2 separate regions of the Homo sapiens genome follow, and region 1 is linked to region 2. The links come from fine-mapping of genetic effects on gene expression. A gene starts in region 2. The other region holds a variant in brackets. All regions are shown on one strand. Distances are from middle to middle. Region 1 has its middle 30 kb from the start of DUSP22. Region 2 holds the start of DUSP22 (dual specificity phosphatase 22).

Region 1 (3,030 bases), 30 kb after region 2:
TTTGGGAGGCCAAGGCGGGTGGATCACGAGGTCAAAAGATCGAGACCATCCTGGCCAACATGGTGAAACCCCGTCTCTACTAAAAATATAAAAGTTAGCTGCGTTTGGTGGCATACACCTGTAGTCCCAGCTACTTGGGAGGCTGAGGCAGGAGAATCACTTGAACCCAGGAGGTGGAGATTGCAGTGAGCCGAGATCATGCCATTGCACTCCAGCCTGGCGAAGGAGCGAGTCTTCGTTTAAAAAAAAAAAAAAGAATCAATAAACCCAAATGTTGGCTTGTTAAAAAGTGCCACAAAATTGGCAAGTCTTCAGCTAAAGCAGCAAACCAAAAAGAGAGAAGACACATATAACTAAAATAAGAAATGAAAGTGGAGGTATTAGTACAGATTTTACAGAAATAAAAAATTATAAGAGAATACTATGAACAACTGTATGCCAACAAATTAGATAACCTAGATGAAATTGATGAATTTCTGGAAACACACAAATTACCTGAAGTGACTCATGAAGAAATAGAAAATCTCAACAAATATAAAACAGGAGATTGAATCAGTAATCAAAACCTCCTAACAAAGATATGTCCAAGACCAGATGGCTTCACTGGTAAATTATACTAAACATTTAAAGAATTAACACCAATTCTCTATAAACTCTTCCTCCCATCCTTGAAATAGAGGAGGGAATACTTTTTATGGGAACTCATATTATAAGGACATCATAACCCAGATGTCAAACTAGAAAAAGACATCAGAAGAAAAGTATAGACCAATATCCCATATGAATAGAGATGCAAAAACTTCAACAAAATACTAGCAAACCAAATCAAATGACACATTAAAATAATTATACACCATGACTCAGTAGGATTTACCCCAGGATGCAAAGGTGGCTCAAAATTTTGAAATAATCAATGTAACAGATCAATTAAATTAATATAACAAGGGGAAAAGATGCATGCTCATCTCAATTGATGCAGAAAAGGCATTTTCAACCCCCTTTCATGATTTTTTTAAACCCAGAAAACTAGGAAATAGAAAGGAACTGCCTAAATATGATAAAGAGCAATTATAAAAAACCCACAGCTAACAGCATACTCAATAGTGAAGCTTTCTCCTTTAAGATTTTTTAGATTTCCTCCTAACAAGACAAGGATGCCCACTTTCATTCCTTCTATTCAACATTATAAGTTCTAGCCACAAAAATTAAACAAGAAAAAGAAAGGACAGGCATTCAAATGAAAAAGGAAAAAGTAGTACTATCTCTATTTGTGAGGACATGATCCT[A/G]TATATAGAAAATTCTAGAGTCGACAGGAATACAAATCCAGCAAAATCACAGGCTACAAGATTAACACAAAAAACTCAGTTGTGTTCCTATATACCAGCAATAAACAATCAAAAAAGAAAATTAAAGCAATTCCATTTATAACAACTTCTAAAAGAATAAACACCTAGAGATAAATGTAACTAAGTGGGTGAAAGAATTGTACAGTGAAAACTACAAAACTTTGCTGTAGGAAATTAAAGAAAGAAATTAAAGAAATAAATGGAAAGACATTTTGTGTTCACAGATTAGAAGACTTAATACTGTTAAGCTGTTAATAGTACCTGAAGCAATACATAGATTCAATAAAATCGCTTTCACAATTCCAGCAGCCTTTGCTGCAGAAATGAAAAAGTCAATCCTCAAATTCATAGGCAATTGCAAGGGCCCTGGAATAGTCAAAACAATCTTTAAAAAGAAAAACAAATTTGGAGGAGTCACACTTCCTAATTTCAAAGCTTACAAAGTTACAAAAAGCAAAACAATGTGGTACTGGCCTAGATATAAACATATAAACCAATGTAATAGAATGAGAGTCCAGAAATAAACCCATACATCTATGGCCAATTTATTTTATTTTATTTTATTTTATTTTATTTTATTTTATTTTATTATTTTATTTATTTTTGAGATGGAGTCTTGCTCTGTCACCCAGGCTGGAGTGCAGTGGCATGATCTCAGCTCACTGCAAGCTCCACCTCCCGGGTTCACACCATTCTCCTGCCTCAGCCTCCCAAGTAGCTGAGACTACAGGCGCCCACCACCACACTTGGCTAATTTTTTTGTATTTTTAGTAGAGACAGGGTTTCACCATGTTAGCCAGGATGGTCTCAATCTCCTGACCTCATGATCTGCCCACTTCAGCCTCCCAAAGTGCTGGGATTACAGGCATGAGCCACCGTGCCCAGTATGGCCAATTTATTTTTGACATAGATGCCAAGTTCATTCAAGGGAGGAAGTAATAGTCTTTTCCACAAACAGTGCAAAGACAATTGGATTTCAATATGCAAGAGAATGAAGTTGGACCCTTACCTCACATCATATATAAAAGTTAACTCATGGATCAATGATCGTAAAATCTTTGAATACACAGAAGATTTTTTTAGGGCAGTGAAAAGATTCTGTATAATACTGCAATGATGGATACATTTGTTTAAACCTGTAGAATATACAACACAAAGTGTGAATTCTAAGGTAAACTACGAACTTTGGGTGATTATGGTGTGTCAAGGTAGGTTCATTAATTGTATGCACCACTCTCATGAGATATTTTGATAGTGGGGGAGGCTGTGCATACGTAGGATAAAAGGCACATGGGAAATTTTTGTATCTTCCACCTAATTTTGCTGTGAACCTAAAACTCCTCTAAAATAATAAAGTCTTAAAACAAAACTCTTAGAAGACAACATAGGAATAAGCTGTTATAATCTTGAGTTCAGTAGTAGATTTTCAGGACACCAAAAGCACAAGAAACAAAAGAAAGAGTAGATAAATTTGACTTCATCAAAATATTTGTATATCAAAGGACATTATCAAGACAGTAAAAGACAACTACAGAATGGGAGAAAATATTTGCAAATCATATATCTGGAATGGGATTAATATCCAGAATATATAAATAACTCCCGGAACTCAACAACAAAAATACAAAACATATAACCCAATACATAAGAAGGAGAAAGGACCTGAATAGACATTTCTCCAAAG
Region 2 (2,747 bases):
TCCAAACTTGATCACTCGCCAAAAAAAAAAAAAAAAAAAAAGTGAATACAATTCTCTTTACCAAAATACCCCAGTATTGATATGCAGGTCCCAAACACACAATAGTTCTTTCACAAACTGGGTAACCAGGACACAATAAACACGACATGCGCACGTGAAAAGTTAGCTAGGTTTTCCCTGCCCTACCGTGAATCCGCATTTGCAACACTCCAGCCCCAACACCCAAACCACTGCTGACCCAGTGCTGAGGGACATGAAAAAAAACACAGCCACATTGCCATCCCCACCCAGTGTGGAAGCTGACGGCATGTAGAGATGTGGGTGGGTGGAGCGCAATGAAAAAGTGAAGCAGAAAGACGACTCATCTAATCCAGGACCATTCAAAGACCCGTAAAAAGGTACTTGTCTTTGTTGCGGGCTTTGTAAAGTCTTGTCAATCCTTCCTCGAAACCAGCCAAGTACCAAGTAACAAAATCCTTAACCCTGTGGTTCACATGAATACACCCCGGCAACTCTCAGCTGCCAGAGCTGGAATCTGGCAACTTCCCTGGACGGGAAAGGCTAGCCCACCGCCCGGGAAGTGAGGTGCGGGCAACAAAAGAACACAGGGTGGGGCCCAGAAACGGACGGGACAAATGGAGCAACACAGATTTTCCAGAAGGCCTCATCAGCGCAAGCAGCCAGCAACAGGTTGCCCTTGTTGCAGAAGTCACATAACCTAATCAACTCTGAATCTTTTCTCTCCTCCCCACTATCTAGAAACAGCTCAGGACTTAGGACTCTGTTAACTTCTCTGTCCACAAGAAAAACTTCTCTGTGCTCACAGGCACACACACAGAATCTGAGGAGAAAGAGGAAATTACAGAGGACACCCGTTTACTAATGATGTGGGGGGGGCGGTGGTGGCTTCAAGAGCGTAGTTTGGGAGCGAAGAGGAGGGCAAAAAAGAAGCCACATCCATTCGGAGCTCAGCTGACCTCTCGGCAGAACAAGTGTCAACGCTTTCAAAGGGCGCGGCTTGTTTCAGCCACGAAAACGCACCGGCTGGCAAGGCAGGCGGCTGGGGGCTGCCTACCCGGAAGCCGGGTGGGGTGGGGGCGGGAACACCTCCGAACCCCGACTCCGCGGTCGCCGCCCAGGCGCGCCGCCCCTCCCTCCGCGCCCGTCCCCACCGCGGGAAAGGGCACCCCGGGCTCGAGTCGTCGGGCAGCCGACGCCGGCGAGACGGCAGGGCGTCGGAGCGGAGGCAAACCCAGCGCGAACGAGGGAAGACGTTACCTTGTTCATCCCATTCCCCATGGTGGCTGAAGGCGAACGCTAGCGCCCCGGCCGTGTGGTCGCAGGCGCACTATGGCATGTTACAGGGAGGAGGAGCGGCGGGGCGGGCGGGGAGGAGGCGCGCGGGAGGGACTGAGTGCTCGCAGTGTCAACAAGTCAGCGGCAGGGACCGGCCGGGCAACCCAGGGCGCTCCAGAGACCCGGCGTGGAGGGCAGGGCTTTCTGTGCGGCGGCCTAGAACTTCCCGGCGGGAGCCGGGCAGGGGCACCGGAGCCTATGCCGGGAAATGGTCCCGCCTTGCCGGTCCCCGCCCCCGTGCGCACCGGGCAGGCCCAGCGTCCCTCCTCGCTCCGCCCGCCCGCACCCTGGGATTCGTAGTCGGGTTCCTGGCTGCCGCGCCCCACTCCGCCCTCGCGGACCCCGGCTCGCGGCCGCCGGGCGTGGGAGGCACTAGGCTCGGGCTCCCAGGCGGCCGGCCCCGGAGGCCAGAGCGCGTGCGCGGCCCGAGCCGCCCCGCCGGGACACCCGAGGCTGCGCGGCGGGGCCTGGCGGACGCGCAGGCGCTGCCCTGACCGGGCGGCTGCGCTCGTCTCGGAGCCCGCTCCCCGGCCGGGGGTCTCCAGATCCCCCTTTGGCCTTTTCCCCTGGGGCGACTCCGGGGGCCAGTTACCAGCAGTCGCTACCCAGCCTTGGCTGCCTCCGTGAATCAGGTGCTAATCAGAGGCCTGGTCTCTGGGGGCTCCCCTGCCTGGGTTTTCTGAGTGCGGCAGATTTAGGCTGGGGGATTTCCTGCGGCCCTGCCCCATGCACCAAGACCGAGAAGCCTCGCCTGGTGGGGAGAGGTGGGCTACGTGACTCACCCCGGGGAGGCCCGACCTCCCTACCCTGGGGGAGCAGATGGCTGGATCTCTGACCTCAGACCTCACGGCCTTAGATGATGTGTGTCCCTTAATGTCTGCATTGTGGTTCTGTCTGGAATGGATCAATTTCTAAACTGTAGCAGAATTGTTTTGGGTGTTCTATCAACGTTATTAAACTCTGAAGTTTCTCTCCAGCGACAGAATCCTTGAGCCAGTGGTTTTTCTTCTTAATTTATGTATCCTCAACAATGTCCTGAACATAGTAGGTGCTTAATAAATATTTGCTGAATGAGTACATGCGTCAATCTGACGTGCCCTGGCTCACCCCTGCTGACTTCATTTTATCTTCTTGCTAAGCGAGTTACACACATGCTGGTCTCCTGTCTGTTCCTTGAGCCTGTCAGGCTTGCTGGGCTGTGCTCTCTATCCAGACACCTGGATCCCCAGCTCTCTGCATACCTGCCTGTTATCGCTGAGGTATCAGCCCAAATGCCATCTCTCCTAAGAGGCTTTTCCTAACCACCCAATTCCAGGTTGGTCCTCCAGTCACTATCATATTACTCCGTATTATTGATCGGAAATACATGTATTTGCTTTCTTTTTATCTGT

The links. PIP is the estimated chance that this variant, and not a neighbour inherited with it, causes the effect.
Region 1: its variant is the best candidate, but not a certain one, in a credible set for the expression of DUSP22 in whole blood (INTERVAL, PIP 0.54).

The regions. Positions count from the first base shown.
Region 1 is chr6:260,934-263,963 of GRCh38, reverse strand. No RefSeq gene overlaps it. Among named protein-coding and RNA genes, the nearest start is that of DUSP22, 30 kb to the left of the region's middle. The variant A/G (reference allele first, on the strand shown) is at 1,287.
Region 2 is chr6:291,092-293,838 of GRCh38, reverse strand. It overlaps DUSP22 (dual specificity phosphatase 22), which reads right to left and starts at 1,352. Exons shown (of 7, transcript NM_001286555.3): 1 at 1,279-1,352. The coding sequence starts at 1,299. RefSeq lists silencers at 60-119, 130-189, 69-225, 970-1,989 and enhancers at 620-879, 1,172-1,672, 1,673-2,173, 2,100-2,389.